Linked DNA regions of Homo sapiens. The protein of the gene in region 2 interacts with the protein of the main gene of each other region in a pairwise test. Each region holds a gene or a part of one and is shown on either strand. Other genes may lie near its edges.

The links.
Region 1: the proteins of PCYT1B (region 2) and PAXIP1 interact in a two-hybrid assay, tested with the Homo sapiens proteins (one study listed by BioGRID).
Region 3: the proteins of PCYT1B (region 2) and VKORC1L1 interact in binary tests that used the Homo sapiens proteins (3 or more experiments, as listed by UniProt).

Annotation. Positions count from the first base shown.
Region 1 is NC_000007.14:154,972,063-154,979,171, reverse strand, and holds part of PAXIP1 (PAX-interacting protein 1), read left to right. Parts: intron 1-2,840; coding exon 2,841-3,476; intron 3,477-4,266; exon of another isoform or gene 4,267-7,109.
Region 2 is NC_000023.11:24,644,322-24,652,315, reverse strand, and holds the start of PCYT1B (choline-phosphate cytidylyltransferase B), read left to right. Parts: upstream 1-4,968; 5' UTR 4,969-5,210; coding exon 5,211-5,327; intron 5,328-7,994.
Region 3 is NC_000007.14:65,946,068-65,953,176, forward strand, and holds part of VKORC1L1 (vitamin K epoxide reductase complex subunit 1-like protein 1), read left to right. Parts: intron 1-2,603; coding exon 2,604-2,713; intron 2,714-7,109. UniProt on the Homo sapiens protein: Involved in vitamin K metabolism. Can reduce inactive vitamin K 2,3-epoxide to active vitamin K, and may contribute to vitamin K-mediated protection against oxidative stress.

The DNA.
Region 1 (7,109 bases), on a different chromosome or scaffold from region 2:
GTTTTGAGGATACAAAATTTAGAATAATTTAGCTGATAAATTGGGTCAGGCAAAGGCATCTAAACATTGCTTTCCTCTTAAATCATCTTTGTTTAAACAGTTACTGTCTTTCAGTGATTAAAAACTACCTATCTTGTGAAAAGCGAGAGAAAACTTGAGTGAAATATAGTAAGGCTGTTTACCTAAGTGTTTTACTTAGATTTCCACAGGAAATAGTCAAGTTATTTCTGAAATGTGAAATGCCAGCATTCTATACAAACTAGGAACTCAAGAGCCTACTGGATCCCAGCCTTTTAAGTGTGAAATTATCTTTTTCATATCCAAAATTTTCAGTGACTCCTCTTCATGGCAGTAGTTTTGTTTTGTTTTTTGGTATTTGTTAAAACAATTAAAAATAACTTTTTTTCATATTTTACTATTTCAACAGATATCTTTTTAACTTGGAAAAATCATATGTAAACCATATTACATATAGTCATATGTTATTCAAGCAGATGATATTTTTGTATTAATTGGTTCATAAATATTCTGCTGTGTACCTGGACTTCATATTTTCCTAAAATAACTTGGGTTTTTCTGGAATGGGTAGTCCAGAAATTGAAAATCTCTAGTAGAAATTTATCATCTGGGGAGAGCTATATAACATTTTATGCTTTTAAATATTTAAGAACAGCATGATTTTTTAGGGTAAAGAATAAGACATTTTATTGTCGAGGGTATAGGTAAATTGATGTACTCTTACATAGCTGTTGGAAGTGTAATTGGAATAGCCTTTTTGGGAAGGGAAGTGTAGTTAGAGATATGAAGCCTTAAATCTATTCCTTTTCAAACCTCAACACCAAAACCTAGGAATTTGTCATAAAATATAACTGCAGTTTTTCATAGTAGTGAAACACTGGAAACAACCACGTGGCTAACACTGGGGGATGAACTAAGGTACACAGCTGTGCAACCGAAGAGGAAACTGTAAAAGCCTTTGAGACTACTGGGGAGATCTGAATAGGGCCTGAGGATGAGGTGAATCATAGTTCATTGTGCTGCTATGATAATTATGGTGGTTTAGAAAGTCTTTATCAATTTGAGATCCGTAAACAAAGTTCAGGAGAAGCAAGATTTGTAAAAGATTGCCAGTTATTAAAGCTGGGTGACAGATACAAGGGATTTATTCCACTAGTCTCTAATTTGGTCTGCGTTCGAAAATGTACATTAAAAAGTTTGGTCTGCGTTCGAAAATGTACATTAAAAAGTTTGGTCTGTGTTCGAAAATGTACATTAAAAAGTTAAAAACAAAAGCATAAAAGTATACATGTTTTCATAGGAAGAGGTTGTTCACAATATATTAAGTGAAAAAGGAACATTATAAAGTATTTGTTCACTATGACTATATGTTTTTTCCCTTTGCCCTTTTAATATATGTACATATATATTTATAACAAAAATAAATTTAAACTATACCCTAAAAATGTTAATCGTGGTCCTTTCTAGTCAGTGTGATTATGATTACATTCATTTTCCTTTGCTTAGCTTCTTATTCATGGGTGTCTCCCATGACTAGGTTTTTCTTATATTTTAAAAAGGTTTGAGAAAGAACAAACTCACAAACACAAGTTAAGTCACTGAGCTGTGTGCAGAGCTCACTATTTGCAAGGATCTCCCAGATGGGCAATGCCTGGCGTTCGCTGCCAGGACCGAATGACCAACAGCTGTCCTCTCTGTGCTGCTGCCCCGCATCCCTATTGCGTGTGACTCTTATTCCACCCAGAAATTGCAAATGCCACCTTGGGGCTCTGCAACAGGACACGGAGTTTAGTTTAGGGCCCTGATTATGTGTTTGCTAGAGAATTGCTGTTATGTGTTAAGCTTTTAGGAGCACAGCCAAATTTACAACTCATTTATTTTAAGGTTACTTTATTGTCATATTACTCTTATTTAACATTTTTTATTTATTTCCTCTTTCTTTGTTATTCCCTCCCCTGTGCCTTCCACATTCTACACCCTTTACCACAGGAGAGGTCTCTGTTAGCTTGCCGAACATACTACTCCGGACACATCTTTTCCAGTGGGCTGTATTTTCTGCTTTCATTCTAACTGTGCAAATTGTCATCATTTGTGCCCCAGCCAAAGCTCACCTTTCAACGGGGCTTTCCTCCTGCCCTCCAGCTTATGTTGATGAGATTCCCTTCCAGTCTGTTACTGCATCATTCAGCAGTGGTTTTATATTGTATTTGCATTCCGTATTTAATATCTCTTTAGAACCAAATTGTGAGCCTTGTTAGGTCAGAGACTTGTTGCATCCTTTGTGTCTCCATCCCTTAGTGCTGCTTGGCATATAGCATGAGCTCCATAAATACTGGATCTTGAATAGAGCTGTCCTATGCAAGTCAGCCAAGTCAGCCATGCTCCATGAGTGTACGTGATGCATTGGCGGCACTCTGCCACGCTGTTACTTTACTAACTGTCATGGAAAACCAAGCTTCTAAATATTATCAATCAGTAAAAACTTAGGTAGCAATTATTCATTTCATAATTTTCCATAGGATTACTAGCTCTACTTTTGTACTTAAAATATCATTTTAAAAAGTTAATTTTCAGCCAAGTCTTTTAAGACTCCTGCTACAGGTGTGAGACCTTCCTATGATCACTGCTGTATGGTTCCTTTTCACTTTTGCCTCATGTCCTCTGTCTAAAAGATCAAACGTTGCTTCTGTATAAAATTGTAATAATAGTTGCTCAACATTTCAACTGCATTCCTTGACTGAGTTTTTTCTAAAATGCGTAATTGTAGGAAATGTGATAAAATTTACAGCTTTGTTTTGTGTGTGTTTCTGCTTTCCTCGTAGGAGAAATACGAATGTGCTTTAAAGCGAGCAAGTATTAAAATTGTGACTCCTGACTGGGTTCTGGATTGCGTATCAGAGAAAACCAAAAAGGACGAAGCATTTTATCATCCTCGTCTGATTATTTATGAAGAGGAAGAAGAGGAAGAGGAAGAGGAGGAGGAAGTAGAAAATGAGGAACAAGATTCTCAGAATGAGGGTAGTACAGATGAGAAGTCAAGCCCTGCCAGCTCTCAAGAAGGGTCTCCTTCAGGTGACCAGCAGTTTTCACCTAAATCCAACACTGAAAAATCTAAAGGGGAATTAATGTTTGATGATTCTTCAGATTCATCACCGGAAAAACAGGAGAGAAATTTAAACTGGACCCCGGCCGAAGTCCCACAGTTAGCTGCAGCAAAACGCAGGCTGCCTCAGGGAAAGGAGCCTGGGTTGATTAACTTGTGTGCCAATGTCCCACCCGTCCCAGGTAACATTTTGCCCCCTGAGGTCCGGGGTAATTTAATGGCTGCTGGACAAAACCTCCAAAGTTCTGAAAGATCAGAAATGATAGCTACCTGGAGTCCAGCTGTACGGACACTGAGGAATATTACTAATAATGCTGACATTCAGCAGATGAACCGGCCATCAAATGTAGCACATGTAAGTCACTCTTTCCGAAAAAAATGTCAGTATTGGATCTTAGAATTGGATTTCACAGTCTATTTCAATGTAGTTTATTGGTTTTGCTTTTTCAGACCAAATAACTTACAAGCAGTATTTGTGTGAGAACCTGTTTACTTGTGTGTGTGTGTGTGTGTGTGTGTGTGTGTGTATGTGTATATATGTATATTTCAGGGTCATTGAAAAAGGGTAACAGCGTATTTTAAGTTGAAGATTTAAAGCAGCTGAGTAGAACCAGGATGTCAGTGATGGAGTACTATCCGTTGAAGGGTTTCCACTCTTACTTAGTTTAAAATTAGCAATGGCAGCAAAGAGAATAATGAAGTTTACCAGCTGTACCTGATTTGCTTATAATGAACTTCATGGTAGTAAATAAATAACACAAATTCATGCATTTGTTGAGGAAGGCTTGATTTCAGGTTACAGTTTATATAGCATGGAGCTTATTGATACAGAGTGGATCTTAAGTTTTGTTGCTGGTTGTTTTTTGTTTTGTTTTTGTTTTTTTTTTTTTTTTTGAGATGGAGTCTCACTCTGTCGCCCAGGCTGGAGTGCAGTTGCATGATCTCTGCGCACTGCAACCTCCACCTCCCGGGTTCAAATGATTCTCCTGCCTCAGCCTCCCGAGTAGCTGGAATCACAGGCATGTGCCACCATGCCTGGCTAATTTTTTTTTTTTTTTTTGTATTTTTAGTAGAGACAGAGTTTCACCATGTTGGCCAGCCTGGTTTTGAACTCTTGATCTCTAGTGATCCACCCACCTCGGCCTCCCAGAATGCTGGGATTACAGGTGTGAGCCACCACGCATGGCCTTAAAAGTTTTAAGTACATATATTTCTATTTAAGACAGAAAGAAGGTAGTTGAGGTGGTATATTGGCCACTCTGCATTTTTCTGGGCACTGGAGATAAAATTGTGACTAAGAAAACTAATTTAGGTAGAGAAGACATACAGTAAGTGGAGAAATATGAACAAAAGGACTGTTGATGGTGAAAGGTGTTTCAAAGAAAATAATCAGGGTCCCGTAATAGCAGGTGAAGGGAAGGAGGCTATTTTAGACGAGATGGTCAAGAAGGACCTCGGGCAGGAGGTGACTTAGATCAGGGTTGAATGACAAGGAGAGGCCATGTGAAGAACTGAGGGCACAGAGTTCCCAGGCAAAAGGAAGACCCAAATGGCATGAATTTGCTGAGTTCTAAGAAAAGAAAGTTAATGAAATTTGAACTTCATAAGGTGAATGAGTTCTAGGAAGGATTTAAAAGGGGCCTTGCCATATAGGGCCATAGTGAGGAGTATGGTCTTTCTTGGAAGGAAGCCACTGGGCTTTTGAGTTGGGGTGAGATGCACTCTGTGTAAACAGTGGATCTTTGAGGGGCAAGAGTGAAGCAGAGAGGCCCCTTAAGAGGACATAGAGTTGGAGTTTGAGACAGAAAAAAATGAATGGGAGGATCCAGCTTTCTGGCTTGAGCGAGTGAAGGAAGATGATGCTGTTTCAGAGATAAGGAACACTGGAAAGCTGCAGGTTTGAAGAACCTAAGTTTCTTTTCAGATGTGTTGGGTTGGAGGTATCTGATCCATGCAGGGGCTGTCTGCTACGTGGTGGAACCAGAGAAAACAAGGCTGACTGAAGCTGTGGAGGCGGATGTGAGAATGTGTAGTAGGTGGGGCAGAGCAAGAGGAGGGTCTGGGGCCAGGCTCTGAGGAGCCGCACCATTGAGAGCCAGCTGGGCTGTTCCATCTGATGGTGACACCCCGTCTGCCGCTTCACCTTGTTCTGGACACTTTCATTTCATAATGACAGCTCAAAGTCCCAGAAAAATGGCTCTGTAGCATATAGGAACAACCTGAAGCCGGATCCAGTATTCTCCACATCCACTTTCAGTGGAAAGGCTTGATGTTGATGAAGTGGGGAAATTCAGTATGGCGTAGGTATAAGGTGATGTTGACAATGATCATTTTATTGGGTATGATAATAGCAGTGGTTTACGTAGTGTTTAGAAATGCTGTGGGACAGACAAAATCTTTGTCTCCCCTCCCCTCCACCTAAGCAGCGAGTATTAGTAGTACACGGTTCTTGGGATGATGACAGCGGTTGGCTGGCATCCAGAGTAAGATAGAGGCAAACATGCCCTTTAGATGTTAGACAGCAGACAGTTAAGATGGTGGGGGAGAAGGTGAGCAGAGAGAGAAGGTCATCGGGTTTGAGGAGAATAGAAGATTTTCAAATAGGTGATTCATAGATAGGGAAGACTTTGGGTTTCTGGCTTGAGAGGTGGATGCCTGATAAAATGCCGAGCTGGCCTTCCTCAAGTCCTGGGTGGTGACAGTGCCTTGTAACTGAACAGCAGCTGCCCGTTAGGAGCTCTTGGGCCTGCTTCAGTGCCCACCGCTCCATGTCACCTTGTTGGGTCCCGGAGGAAAACAGGCCTGCCACTGACCATGGGTCTTGGGGGTGGTTGGGAATGTGTGGCTGAGGAAATGGGGAGAAGGCCACCAAGATGAGGAGGTCCAAGAGCTGCAAGGCCAGGGATTGTCCAGGTGGGTGCCCATGAGAGCGCTGGGGTCAGCCGAGTTTAGGGAAAAGGTAGATGCACAGAAGGAGCCAGCTCCAGCACCGCCCAATGCTGAGGGTGCCGGCCCTGGTCCCTGCACATCCGCGTCCAGGCAGGTGGGCGGGATAAAGCCACAGGGCACAGCCTCAGCCACAGAGCAGCAAAGTGACGATCACACAGTCGTCCTGAGAGCCAGAGGATGTCATGACAGGTAGAAAGTAAAGGCCATAAAGAATGACAGGCTAGAGGCAAAGAGGATTCTAGCATTTTTGACCTCAGTCATGAGAAGAGTGATGATACTGCTGAGGTGGAGGAATTGAGAAGGTGACCCAGTCCTGGCAGGAAGACTGCGGCCACGCAGTGGACCTGTCCTGTCAGCAGTGGGATATGCGAGATATGGGCCGTAAAGATCTCTCTCATAGGGTTGGTGTGAGAAATCATGGATTAAGCCTCTGGCACTTCGAGAAATGGCTACTTTCTCACTTTCTTTAGGTGAGAAATTATGGACAGAAGTCATCCATTTGAAATAGGAAATTTTCTTTGCTTTTCATTTATCTGTGGTGTCAAAAAGTGTTGGTCAGTTACTGCTGGTTAGTTACTACTTATTTCTAATATATATGTTTTGGTTGTTTTTTGAGACAGAGTCTCACTCTGTTGCCCAGGCTGGAGTGCAGTGGTGGGATTTCTGCTCACTGCAAACTGCACCTCCCTGGTTTAGGCGATTCTCTTGCCTCAGCCTCCTGAGTAGCTGGGATTACAGGTGCCCATTACCACGCCCGGCTAATGTTTGTTCATTTTTATTAGAGACGGGTTTTTGCCATGTTGGCCAGGCTGGTCTCGAACTCCTGACTTCAGGTGATCTGCCTACCTCGGCCTCCCAAAGTGCTGGGATTATAGGTGTGAGCCACCGTGCCTGGCCTTATTATGTTTTTCAAATACAATGGATGTTGGTTTAAATATAAAGTTCCTTAAGTTTGTATTTGGATATAGAGACAAAATAATTTACTTTGAAATGGAAAGAATTGACTGCAGTAGGGAGTTTGGGCACATCTCTGCACTGG
Region 2 (7,994 bases):
AAATATTGGGATTATAGGCGTGAGCCACCACGCATGGCCTGTCATTACTTTTAATGGTAAAAACTGCAATTACTTTTGCACCAACCTAATACCATAGTGCTAAAGACATAAGAGGTACTCAATAAACAGTAGAAATAATCATGATAGTCCTTGTTAGGGACAGCACTGATCTGACAAGTTCTCACAGAAGGCATGCTCTTCTTGTAGAGGTCATGGGACTCAGAAGCCCTGTTCCTAAACATTCTCTGGGACTTTTCTGAACAGCCTACCTCCAACATGTTTCCTCTGCCTCTGCTAACTGGAGATAGGACTTTAGGACTTTGCTCCAGCTTTGTTCCTCGGTTTCAGCTTTTTTGTTTCCTCTCACTGAGGTCTGTGCATCTTTCTATTTGCTCATGAGCTAACCATGCCTGTCTCACCCCAACCCTAATACCCAGCTCTTGATGACTTTGGGGAGGACAGTAATGTTCATTGTTTTTTTCTAATTATAAGACTAATATAGGGTTGGTGCGGTGCCTCATGCTTGTAATCTCAGCAATTTGGGAGGCCGAGGCAGGCAGATCGCTTGAGCTCAGGAGTTCAAGACCAGCCTGGGCAACATGGTGAAACACCATCTCTACAAAAAATTAGCCAGGCGTGGTTGCGTGTCCTGTAGTCCCAGCTACCTGGAAGGCTGAGGTGGGAGGATCACCTGAGTCTGGGAGGTCGAGGCTGCTGTGATCACGTGACTGCACTCCAGTCTGGGCAACAGAGTGAGACCCTGTCTCAAAAAAAAAAAGAATAATATATGCTCATTTTTGAATATATATATATATATATATATATATATATATATATATATATTTTTTTTTTTTTTTTTTTGAGATGGCATCTCGCTCTGTTGCCCAGGCTGGAGTGCAATGGCGTGATCTCGGCTCACTGCAACCTCCGCCTCCGAGGTTCAAGCGATTCTCCTGCCTCAGCCTCCAGAGTAGCTGGGACTACAGATTCCTGCCAACACGCCCAGCTAATTTTTATATTTTTAAAATAGACGGGGTTTCACTGTTTGGCCAGGATGGTCTCGATCTCTTGACCTCATGATCCACCCACCTCAGCCTCCCAAAGTGCTGGGATTACAGGCGTGAGCCACCGCGCCCAGCCTTGAATATTTGTTAAAGGCAGAAAAATTTGTTTTAAAGTAAAACAAAAATCTTCCATAACCCCACAGTTTAAAGATTTCACTTTTAGCATCTTGATATATTTCCTTCCAATGCTTTTTTCTGTGCATGTACATATGACATAATTGGGCTCATGTTTTTGGAATCACATTTTGCAGCCTGCTTTTCTAACACTATAATGCTAACACGTGCCCATAACATTAGAATTTCTTCAAAAACATGACTCTTAGTGAGTGTACAATACTATATTATATGGACTTATTTTTATTTGAACTATTCCTACTATTGCTGTAAGTTGTATCTTTTTTGCCTTTTATAAATAATTCTGCATTAAGCATCTTTGTACATAATTATTTGTGTGCTTCTCTATTTCTTTTGGGATAAATTACCAAGTGGAATCCCTAGGTCAAAGGGTATGAATATTCTAAAGGCTGTTAGCATATACTGACAAATATCCTCTATGGAATTTCTAATGAAGTTAACACATGCATGGATTTTTTGAAATCATTACCATAATCAAGATACATAATGATTCTTGGACGGCCACAGTGGCTCACGCCTATAATCCTAGCACTTTGGGAGGCCGAGGAAGGTGAATCACTTGAGGCCAGAAGTTCCAGACCAGCCTGGGCAACACAGTGAAACCCTGTCTCTACCAAAAATATAGAAAGATTAGACAGGAGTGGTGGCATACACCTGTGGTCCCAGATACTTGGGAGGCTCAGGTGGGAGGATCGCTTGAGCCTGGGAGACAGAGGTTGCAGTGAGCTGAGATTGCACCACTGCATTCCAGCCTGGCAACAGAGTAAGATCCTGTCTGAAAAAAAAAAAAAAAAAAAAAGCTACATAATAATTCCATTACCCCAATAAACTCTCTCCTGCTATCCCTTCATAGTCATCCCCTTCATAACCCTTATGGAATATTTAGCTCTGTAGTGTGGAATTAACTGATCATTCTTAGCTAATTGTCTTGATAGCATTACAATGCCCCCAAGTTAAAATAACTCACTCAAGTATTATCAAGAAGTTTCTGAGTCAGGTTGTAGCAGCTGCCAGGACTGGTCTCCAAAGTGGGTGGATCTGTTAAGGACTCCTCTCAGAGTGGTGCCTGAAAGAGCCTATTTCTGCCATTAAGACTGCAAGACATGCTGAGATTCAATCACAGGACTGTGGGGAGAGGAGCAGGAAGAAGCCAGGACTAGGCTGGAGCAGAATTAGTGGGAATGGAATTAGTTATAGAGCTGACCCTCAGGGCAGTTAGACAGAAGTCTAAATTTCAAAGTTCAAGGACTTGGGATGAGTAAGTGTCAGGTGTGACGGACTTAGCACAAAGTAGCACTGAAAGCTAAGGATTTGATGTGGGTAATACAATGAAGATATCCTAGGCAAAGGCAGTATCTTGGTTCAATGGGACAGGGGAGGATTAGGAGGAGAAGAAGGTGAGGAAGGGAGACAGAAGATATTGGGAGTCTAAAGGAATGGCCTAGGCTCTTGGACAAGAGTTCACAAGGACTCAGCTAGACATCAGAACTCTTTAAAATGAGCAGGTGAACAGGTGAACCTCTCATTCTGGAGAGAGAATTAGGTGACCAATTAGGAACCAAGGGGTGGCTCAGTGGCCAAGAATACAGTGGGGTTTAGGTGCTTTCCAATGTGAACAGTGACTCTAAGGTAGTGGTTTGTAAACTTTAGCGTGGGTCAGAATGCCTCCCAAACCAGGAGGTTTTGATTCAGTAGGTCTGGAGTGGGAAGCCAGAATTTCTGATTCAGTAGGTCTGGGGTGGGGATCCAGAATTTCTGACAAGTGACCAGGGCTGCTGCTGCACTTCTTGGAGAAGTACACTTTGAGAACCACTGCTCTAAGGCAAAAATACATATATTGAGATTAGAATAACCATGTCATTTGCACGTCACCCAGTACACGTAGGAAAAGGGCTCCTAAATGTAACACAGGGCTTGGCTCTTCCAGGTGATGAGCTGGTAGAGTTAAACCTGCTGCTGGAAGTGTTTTGTGCTTCCAGGAGGGCAAATAGGGTAGGAAGCATCACTGGAATTCTCACAACACTGGAGTTCTGTCCTGTATAGGTCATAATACTCTTAAGTGATGTTATTCTGACTTAAAGGGCCAGCATCTAAAACTGTCAAACTGTAATTCTCTGCTACAGAATCCATTTTCTTCTTCTTTTAGGACTAGCCCTCTTTGCTTATTGAGGAGTAATAAAAATAATGTCCCCTTATATTAGCATAGCACGTTCTAATTCAAAAAGTGCAATGACATGATATCTCATTTGATCTCCTTTCTGTGATGGAGGCAAGCCCGGTATTTTTATCCCATCCTTTGGGCTACTGATTCTCAAAGTATAGTTCCCAGACCTGCAGCATTAACAACACCCAGAAACTCTCTAGAAAAGCAAATTCTGACCCCACCCCAGACTTACTGAATCAGGTCCGGGGTCTGGCAGGGGGCCAATAATTCGCATTTCTAACAAGTTCCCTGGTGATGCTGATGTTGGTGCTGCTGGTCCCAGACCACACTTGAATGAAAACCACTACTGTAGATAAAAATGAAAGATGTAGAAGCCCAGGGACTTGTCCTAAGAGGACTCCTGCCTAGATCCTTTTCTTACTACACCTGCTGCATCCCTGGTCCCTACGCGCCCGCCCCCACCACCTCGCCCTTCGCAAAAAAAAAAAAAAAAAAAAAAAAAATTCCTTCAAATCCCAGCTGCATTATTTTAGAATTTTGTGAATGTGAATACCTGTAAAATGAGGATAACAATAGGATCTACCTCTTTGGGTTCTCACAAAGATTAAACAAGAACTAGGTAAAGTACTTAGCACCGTGCTTGTGCTTAATAAATGCCAGGGATCATCATGATTTTTTATTAATATTAAAAGTGACAATTCACAATGAATACCTTGGTAAGTTCTTTGGATGTGTGTCTTCAGAATGCTCCTCTTAAAATGTGAATGTCCCTAGATAATGTAGACATTAAAGCACCTGATCGTTAACATTCCATCTCTGATTGCCATGAGCATTTGGCTGAGAGCAGGGTACTTCGGAAATGGGACCCACGACTGGTAAAGTAGGAACCAAGAGAAAATAGAGCAGTGCATGGAACAGTGTATTGAAAGGCACACAACAGCAAGACTTCTTGAGGAAACTTTGAATAGCTGGGGAAGGGGAAGAGTGGCTGACAGAGGAAGCAACTGCGAAAGGGCAGCCAGGAGTAGGAGGCAGGCTGTTAAAGACAATCTACCTCCTTCAAAGTTCCCCCTAGGGCAGCCCCAGGGGAGGGCTCCAGGGCTACACCAGGCCACGAGGGGATCTGCCAGGGTTCACGTTGCATGAAGTCCAGGGGTCGAACACTCAGGTGCCCATAGTGAATGCCCGGAGGGGCCCTCCACTGGCAATTAGCACAATGAATTTGGGCTCAAAAGTGGCTTTGTCTTCAGGGTGACTCCTATTTGGCAAATATCCTGACTACAGCACATCATGCACTAGCTCATCCCAGGGACATGGTCCTTTATTAGTGGAGGTCTGCTATGTTGTTTCTCAAGGCGTCCTAGGCCCCTCAGGAAGCGGTTTTATGTTATCTGGGTGGCGCAGCCCGGGTCCCGTGCCCAGAGAGGACGGAGACCTTTGCAACTGAATTAAACAGAAGAAACAAAAGCAGCAAGTTCGGGCCCGTGGGTACGGAGGGCTAGCCAATGGGGCCCGGCCGCTTCCCGGCGGAGTGGTACTATGATGACAGTAGCCAACCAGCGCGCTCTATGCAAATGAGATACTGTATCCCGCACCAGCCGCTTCAGTGTCGTCTGGTTGTTATAGTGATAAACTGAGGCCTTGCCTCTTGGCTTCTGGGAGAGAGAGAGAGAGAGAGGGGCGGGGGGTAACCTCTTTACTTCCCCTAGGGAAGACAGAAAGAAGGGGAGAAGAAGCGGGGGGATGGGTGGAGGGTAGAGGGGAGAAAAATACGTGACAAAGAAAACATTCTCTGCCTGGGAGGAGACTCTCTGAGGGTGTAGAGCTAGAGGGAGCATTCACTGGCCATGCCAGTAGTTACCACTGATGCTGAGTCAGAAACAGGTATCCCAAAATCCCTTTCCAATGAGCCTCCCTCAGAAACCATGGAGGAAATAGAGCACACATGCCCACAGCCTCGACTGGTAAGTAAAGACAAAGGATGGAAATGTATGCGTGGCTATGGCATAAAAGAGTTCCTTATGCGCCCGCAGCCAGCGAGGAAAACGATGCTTAGAGGATTTTCATGTAAATGAGAAGAGCGCTACCGCCTAATCCTTCTCAGCTGTTTATACTTAGCTTCTATACCGGGCGCTGCTCTCAGTTTACAAAGCGTTATTGTATTGGCTGGGTAGGAAACGGGCTGCTTGGGATATGCTGTGTTTTTGTGCTTCGGGAGGAGGGGAGGGCCTTTTTCCTTTTAGGTGTGTTCTTGTCTGAAGGTAAAAAAATCCTACAGTGCAATTTTAAAATGGTATTCTCTTTACCAAGCTCGGGAAGAGTCCCTTGTTAAGTTTTAAATTCTAGCTAAGGAATGCTTCGTTCCTCAACTGATTTTGGTGCCTAATGCCAATTTGGGGGGAAAAAAATGGAAACATGGAAGCAAAACTTCCCCATCCGTTTGAAAATGTTCAAAATAAATAAATAAATAAATACATAGGAGTCCCTCAATGATTTAGTTAGAAATAATACGCATTTAAAACGAATTGTAAAACATTTCCAGAGTGTGCTGTGAGGGTTTCTCTTCAGGTAGTGGAAACCTGGGGAGCTACATTTATTTAGAAAGGGGTTGCATGCCTTTAAGAATGAAAGTGTGGAAACGGGGTACTGAGAGCGTCCTTCCGCCTCCGTAACTGCACCGTAACTGCTCTCCCAAATTTGGTCGTCTCTCTATCCCTGGTCATGATCTTTTAGGTAGATGTGAAACTTCGTTCCCAACCACCTCAGCATGTGTCCTCAAGGAATCAAAAACACGCATGGGTGGTGGGTTTTCTGTGGTCCGAAGTCTTGTGGAACTTGGGGAGACCTCTCTTTGAGTCCCCCAATCCAAAAGACACACTAGTTAAAGCTATCCTTTCCTTTAGCGATTTCCCTCAAGTTAAAAGGTGGAATATTTTGATTGGCTGTGGAGTTTGACCCTGGGAAGAGTTTTTTAAAAAAGGATTTTGTGATGTAGCATTTTCTGTGAACCTGCAAAATTAGGGCTCGCAGATGAGAAGGCCAACCCATCATAAAACTGTTATTTCTTAATAAGAGTTAATAAGGGTTCAAAGGAGGCTTAGAACAACTTCCTAAAAAGCACAAATACAGAGGAAGTTATATTAGAGCCCTGTGGGCTTTTTTCCCCTATGCTTCTATTTTTAAAAATGTTTTCTCTTAGGGCAGTTTAATAGTAACTGTGCCCTAGCACTTTAGCCACTTACTGAATGACATACACAGTGCAGTGTCTATGTTCTCATGAGATACAAACCATCCCAATAAGTTTGTTACTAAGGGATTCCTTTGAGTCACTAAACAACTTATGGTTTAGCATAAAGGAAAATGACCACTAAAAGCATATTACAAGATTATCATATGCACATATACATATATACACATAAATAGAGAGAGAGACTCACTCTGTTTTCCAGGCTGGCCTCAAACTTGAACTCCTGGACTCAAGTGATCCTCCTGCCTCAGCCTCCCAAGTAGCTGGGATTACAGGCTTGTGCCACAGCACTGGACCAATATATATATGTGTGTATATATATATATGTATATACACACATATATACATATATACACACATATGTATATATATTTGTGCCCATGCTTACCCAAAAATATATTTTTTAAAGTAACCACAATCTTCAAATTTGCATCACATACCTTCCTGACAGAGGTAAAGGGCAGAGGAGAGAAAGGCGGCATCCAGCTCCAGTTTGTGCATCATTTCAGTCTCTTTTGCCTACTATTTTTCCTTCCATTTTTACCTCTTAGCTATTCTGCTTCTTGATTGCTTCTGCCTGAGGGAGATGGGCAGAGAAAATTAAGGGAAAGAAGAAAGTTCAAGTTACTTTCTTGTTTTTTTAAGATGGAGTCTCACTATGTCCTCCAGGCTAGAGTGCAGTGGCCTGATCTTGGCTCACCACAACCTCCACCTCCCAGGTTCAAGCGATTCTCCTGCCTCAGCCTCCTGAGTAGCTGGGATTACAGGTGGGCAGCACCATGCCTGGCTAATATTTTTTTGTATTTTTGGTAGAGACGGGGTTTTGCCATGTTGGCCAGGCTGGTCTCGAACTCCTGCCCTCAGGTGATCCGCCCACCTTGGCCTCCAAAGTATTGGGATTACAGGTGTGACCCACTGCACCTGGCCAAGTTACTTTCCACTTTCACTCGTGACAGCTTATTCCAGGTGGTAACTCACAAGAACCACGCAAAGCTGGCAATGTGCTCTACACCCTCACCTCCCACCCATTGTAGAAATAAGGAAACTGAGGTTCAGAGAGGGTAAGTGACTTGCCCAAGGGTCACACTGCTTTGAAGGGGGCAGAGCTGGGATTTGAACCCAGAGCTCTACACCGGAAAAGTGGAAGATCTTTCTTCTATAACATACTCATAAGTGAGATACATTCCCTTCCCATCTTTTTGGCAGTTCTGGTTTCGTGTGTGTGTGTGTGTGTGTGTGTGTGTGTGTGTGTGTGTATCATGCACATGCATAGGTATGATACAGATGTACATAAGTTGAACTGTTGAAGCACCTGCTTTGATTTACTTATGATACAAAATTTTCCACGTTGTTCATCATTGTCATGGGCTACTGAAATTTGACT
Region 3 (7,109 bases), on a different chromosome or scaffold from region 2:
AGTTTGAAAGCTACTAAACGTCTTTCATAGCAATTAGAATAAAATTCAAACTCTTCGGCATGGCCTACACACAAGGCCCTAAATAATGTAAATGATTGGACTCGCTCCCAGTTCTCCTGTCACTCTCCTCAATCACCATGCCCCAGCCTCAGTGGCCTTCCTTGGCACACCCACAGCTCATTCCTACCTCAAGGCCTTTGACTTGCCATTGCTCATGAGACCGATTGCTTACCATCACTCAGGATCTCATTCAAAACTTCATTCCTGGAAAAGGTCCTTCCCGACCATCAAGCTAGAGGAGCTTGCTGCACCCCTTCTCTGCCCACAGCTATGGATCTCCAAGTGTGGGCTTCAGACCAGAAGCGTCAGTGTTGCCTGCAAGCATTTCATTTTGTGTTGTGTTTTCTCTGGAAATGCAGAGTCTTAGGCCCCACCACAGACCCACTGAAGGAACAGCTACATTTTAACCAGACCCCAGAGTGATTGTGCTTTAAAAATTTCAGAAGCACTGATCTAGAGTTTCCCCTTCTAATTTTCCTGTGTATCTGTTACAAGGTGTGTCCATTGCTGCAGGTAATCTGGCATTTGTTTACCTGTTTATTATTTCTCTTCCCTAAATAGAATTTAAGGTCCACAAGGGCAGCACCTCGTCTGGCTCGTTCACTTCTGGATCCCCGGCACGTAGCGTCAGTGCACACAGTACATGCTCAATAAGTATTTAGATGAGTGAAAGAATAAATGAATATAATGGAAATTATTTTATGTTCTTTGAAATGTATAACTGAAGGCTGGGTGTCATAGCTCAGCCTGTAATCCCAGCACTTTGGGAGGCCAAGGTGGGAGGATTGCTTGAGTCCAGTACTTCAAGACCAGCCTTGGCACATGGCAAAGCTGCAACTCTATAAAAAAATACCAAAAAAAAAATATATATATATAGCTGGGTGTGGTAGTCTCAGCTACTTCGGGAGGCTGAGGCAGGAGAATCACTTGAACCTCGGAGGTCAAGGCTGCAGTGAGTCATGATTGCAACTGCACTGTAGCCTGGGCAACAGAGGAACATCCTGTCTCAAAAAAACAAAACAAAACAAAACAAACAAAAAGGATTGCATAATTCTACAATAAAAATCTTCATGGCTTTCACTTGTTTGTAAAATCGGGGTGATTTTTCTCTCCCAACATCATCGTTATACAGGGGTTTCATTCTATATCTTGGGCATCAAGTGCTATTAAACTATTGTGGCCTGTGAAGAATTACTTATTTATCCTTGCTTTGGGGCAGTTTGTCTTCAGAACCAAAGTTTAGATTTTGTTTAGACTGATTCTCTACTGACTTAACACCATAACTGGTTTTTTTTTTTTTTTTTAGTATTTAAGAAGCACTCTCGTTCAATCCAGAGTTAACATTATCTTTAAAGGTTTTTTATTCAAAATGAATGTTTGATATTTGTATCAAGTTTTATCAAATAAGTTAACAATTTAAAAAAAATCAGGTTTTAAAAATGTTAAGTCAAATGCAAGATTTAAAGTTAAATTGCAAATAAAAACTGATAGGGCATATAATGTATCCAGTTTTTTACATCTGAGATAGGATTCCAGGAAAGACCTATAGTTTCTGATATTATCCTGCATTTTTTTTTTTTGAAATGGAGTTTTGCTCTTGTTGCCCAGGCTGGAGTGCAGTGGTGCAGTCTCGGCCCACTGCAACCTCTGCTTCCAGGGTTCAAGTGATTCTCCTGCCTTAGTCTCCCAACTAGCTGGGATTACAGGTGCACACCACCATGTCCGGCTAATTTTTTGTATTTTGAGTAGAGACGGGTTTCACCATGCTGGCCAGCCTGGTCTCGAACTCTTGACCTTGTGATCTGCTCGCCTCGGCCTCCCAAGGTGGTGGGATTATAGGTGTGATCCACGGGCCCGGCCCTACATTTAAAAAATACATTCCCAGTATATTTCTTAATGCATATCCTGGTGAAATTTGTGAAGAAACAACTTTTCAATCTATATTCTTTGAGTGAATAAATAGCACAACTTACATTCTATGGTTTTCAACTGGGGGCAGTCGTGTCCCAGCGGATGTTTGGCAATGGCTGTGACTGCATTTTTGGTAGTCACACCTGGGATGGAGGAGTACTGGCAGCATCTAGTTGGGGGAGCTCTGGGGTACTGTTAGTTATGTAATGCACAGAACACCCCACAGCACAAAGAATTATCTAGCCCAAAATGTCAGTAGTCCACTGTTAAGAGACAGTGGACAACTGTCTCCTTCTGCATAGAGAAGTCTCCTTCTGCAAATACTAATGCCATTGGAAAACGAATACTTTGCCCTACCTTCTGGAGAAGAGAATATATAGAAATTGGCAACTGAGAGATTCAGATGGGTATACTGGCACCTTTAGATATGTTCATTTTAGATGATTATTTCTAATCAGAAATCTAGTGACTGGCCTCCCTCTCTTTGGGGCAAATCACTCTCTCAACACAGGACATTTAAGACATTTCACAACTTAGTTGATTTTAGAATTGGATAACGTTCTCAAATAATGATACATTTTTTAAAATAGGGAAATTCAAATATAGGGTTACTGGTTTTCCTTATTTTACAGATGGGGTCGAGGATTTGGTCTTTTGGGTTCCATTTTTGGAAAGGATGGTGTATTAAACCAGCCAAACAGTGTCTTTGGACTTATATTTTATATACTACAGTTATTACTTGGTAAGTATTTATCAATACAAAAATAAGTTTGTTATATTCCGTTTAGTACTTTGTGTCTTTGCCCTGAAGTGTCTTGATGTTAAAGCATGTGTTATTTATAGAACCACTAGCGTGTACAACATTTTTGTGTTATGAAAACTTGATTCACTGAGATTTTTATTATATTATTGTTGAATTTATGTCAATTGCTGTTTAATCATGGAGAGCAGTATCTCATGATGTCCAGAAAAACCAGTCCCATTCCAGGAAATTATCACTCCCATCTTCCCTGTTAACGTTTTTCCTTATTTTATAGACTCAGTGGCCTTGAAAAATATCATATATTAAGGGGACATTAACAAGAAACCATATTCATAATCCCATTACCTTTACATATCCACTATTTCCACAGTCTTCTGCTTTTAAAAATAATTTTTGGGCTGGGTGCGGTGGTGCACACCTGTAATCCCAGCACTTAGGGAGGCCAAGATAGGCAGATCATCTGAGGTTGGGAGTTCGAGACCAGCCTGGCCAACATAAAGAAACCCTGTCTCTACTAAAAATACAAAATTAGCTGGGCGAGGTGGTGCATGCCTGTAATCCCAGCTACTCATGAGGCTGAGGCTGGAGAGTCACTTGAACCCGGGAGACGGAGGTTGTAGTGAGCTGAGATCGCGCCATTGCACTCCAGCCTGGGCAACAAGAGCGAAACTCCGTCTCACAAAAAAGAAATAAATAATAATAATAATAATAACTTGGGGCCAGGTGCAGTGGCTCACACCTGTAATCCTAGGACTTTGGGAGGCCGAGAAGGGCAGATTACTTGAGCCCAGGAGCAACATGGTGAGACTCTGTCTCTGTAGAAAATACAAAAATTAGCCAGGTGTGGTGGCACACACCTGTAGTCCCAGCTACTTGAAAGGCTGAGGTGAGAGAATCACTTGAGTCCAAGAGATGGAGGTTGCAGGGAGCCGAGATCACACCACTGCACTCCAGCCTGGGGGTCAGAGCAAGACGCTGTCTCAAAAACTAATAATTTAATGTGAACTGTGTTTCAACATAGTGTCGTTTATCCTAAGTGTTATTGTTAACATCTAGGTTTCACTCCTTTTACTTCCAAATAATGCTGCAGTGATCAACTTTGTTTAAAGACCTCCTGCTCCTTCCTTCCTTTGAATTATCTCCACAAAATAAATTTCCAAGCATAGTATCAAAAAACACAGATATTTTCAATTTTAATCAGTGTTACCAATTTGCTTTTCCCTCAGTTCTTTGGTTTCCCTGAAGCTCCAGCGGTCTTTATTTTTAAGACATGCTTTGTAAAATTTCTTTTTTTTTTAATTGTAACGATAATCTTCACCTGGAAAAATTGCTAATAGTTACACATTAGTACCTATTACTTTAATTTTTACTCTTTTTAATTTCCTTTTATTGCCCATTTAGCATTTAGTTATTGGATCCCGATACTAGTACATTTTTATATGTGTTACAAACATTTTATGCATTCTTTATCCTTTTTTGTTAGTGTTATGAATTTGTATTGTATTAAGTTTTTATACTTTTAGAGTTAAATCCATCTGTTGATGCCTTTGCATTTTATTTTTCTTCTTTTTTGTAGATCTTGTTGCATACCAATGCTTTTGTATTTTAATTGTTAATATTCCATTACCTGTCAGCTCTTCTGATTTGGTTCATTAAAAATACATGTAACTCTTCTATCTGAAATTGATTTGTTATGAGGCAAATTATAAATCTAAATCATCCTCAGTAGTTCTGTCGAGTTTGCCCAGTTCCATATCTATGTATTTATCTTGCAGAAGTAGAAAGATGTGTGCACAAGGATATTCATAGCAGTACAGTGTAAAATAGCAAAAAAAAAATGGAGGTAGGTTACAAATAGATAATGGTTGAATAAATTAGAAAATACTATGAAATACTATGTAGCCATTAAAGGAAAAAGGAGATCTATGTTTATATCCTAGAAAGATAAAGACACTATTTAGTGAAAAAAGCAAATTTTGGTATAATAGGTATAGGATAAACGTGTTTGTATACATGCATGTAAATGCATAGAAAAGGGTCGGGTGGTTGGGGAGGAGGGAGAAATTTCACTAGGTATTCTGCATGTTTCCATTTTGCTGGATTTCTAGAGAAGAATATGAAGTATAAGCCCAGATGCAAGATGTTTTCCTTTAAAGGCAAAGAACCTAAGAACAGCCTTTGACTAGATTAACTCTTGAAGATAGAGGTGTGACAGCCAAATTTTTGTTTTACCATTAATTTAATGCCATGGTATATACATATTTTAAATCATATTTATCACATGTGTTTTTTCATTCGCATTTTTTGACTCGCATTTAGATGCTTCACGTGCCTTTTAATGTTGGTGTCTTCATGGGAGGCACATTTGAACTAACCTAGCAATTTCCAGAGCACAGCATCTGTACTCCCTTCTAACCTGTTTGAGACACAGCATTTTTAATTTAATTTTTTCATAGGTAATCCATTCACGTGGTTCAAAAGTTTTTAAAAAGGACCGGGCACAGTGGCTCATGCCAATAATTCCAGCATTTTGGGAGGCCAAGATGGGTGGATCACGAGGTCAGGAGTTCAAGACCAGCCTGGCCAACATGGTGAAACCCCATCTCTACTAAAAATACAAAAATTAGCCAGGTGTGGTGCCGCACACCTGTAATCCCAGCTACTTGGGAGGCTGAGGCAGGAGAATTGTTTGAACCTGGGAGACAGAGGTTGCAGTGAGCTAATGTCGCACCATTGCACTCCAGCCTCGGTGACAGAGCGAGACTCCTTCAGGAAAAAAAAAATATATATATATATACATATATAAAATGTTACACAAAGAAAAATCTATCCCACCCCTTCCCTTTATGCCTGGTTTCCAGTGCTCCTCAGCCCCGACTGGTAGCTTGTTATTGTCTCTTTATGCATATACGAGAAAGTACAAATACACAATCTTAATTTTCCTCCTTTTTAAAATATAAAAGGCAGATGCTATACCCACTGTTCTGCAGCTTGCATTTTCTTTTTTTGCCTGATGAATATATCATGGTGATTTTTCCATATCAGTATATTAAATGTCTTCATTCTTTTCTACAGCTGCAGAATAATCCATTGCATAATTGTACCATCATTTATTTAGAGTTACAGCACATTTTAAATTCCACTGGGAATTTGACCCTGAGCCAAACGTACCTAGCTGCATTACAGTAGCATTTAATGGATATCTGGTATTTATACACTATTCTAAGTGCTTTAATCCTGCATTATCTCAGCTCATTTAATTGCCCAGCAGTCTTAAGAAGTAGGCATGATTGTTATCCCAATTTTACAGTTGAGAAAAGAAAGGCATAGAGGAAGAAATAAGTTGCCCGTATCATTCTGAAGTTAACTTTCTTAGGTAAAATTGTGACCACATTAATTTCGAAATGTTAGTTGTTTAGCATAGGTGAAGTCAGCAAACTTTTTCAGTAAAGGGCCTGGCAGAAAATAGGCTTTGCCAGTTGCCGCAGCCACTCAACTCTTCTAGTATGAAAGCAGTCACAGACATTACGTAATGAATGACATTACATAAATGAATGAGCATGGCTGGGTGCCAATAAAACTTTATTTACAAAAGCAGGTAGCTGGCCAGATTTGCTAGTCCCTGCAACAAGTAATTCAGCAGCACCTTAGTCTTGAAGTGCCCTATGAAAGCATCTAGGCCCGTGGCTGTGCGGCAGCCGGCCCACAGGCGTCTTCTTGTTGCATTTTTTTTTTTGCCAACAGGGCCCAGGATTTCAGCTCTTTAACTGACTTCTTTATACCTGCTCCCACCTGTTATTTTGTTCCTGTTTCTGTTATCCTTATCCATGAGTCATTGGGTAGGAGGGTAGTTTAACATGCTCTGCCTTCTCTGTCCTTGAAAATAAATGCACATATTCTCTATACTGTTGCCTATAAGAAATTAAAAACAATACATGTGAAGATAGAGTCCAGAATTCAGGTGCCTTTTTTTTTCCTTTTTTTTTTTTTTTTTTTTTTTTGAGACAGAGTTAAGACTCTGTCGCCCAGGCTGGAGTCCACTGGTGCAATCTTATCTCACTGCAACCTCCGCCTCCTGGGTTCAAGTAATTCTCGTGCCTCAGCCTCCCTTGTAGCTGGGGTTGCAAGCGTGCAATACCATGCCCAGCTAATTTTTTTTTTCTCTTGTACTTTTTAGTAGAGAGGGGCTTTCACCATGTTGGCCAGGCTGGTCTCAAATTCCTGACCTCAAATGATCTGCCTGCCTTAGCCTCCCAAAGTCCTAGCATTACAGGCATGAGCCACTGTGCGTGGCTTCAGGTGCCTTTTTGTATTGAGAGCCTGGATTTAGCACACATGTCCACCATTTTTCTTGATCAGGTTTGACCCACATGCA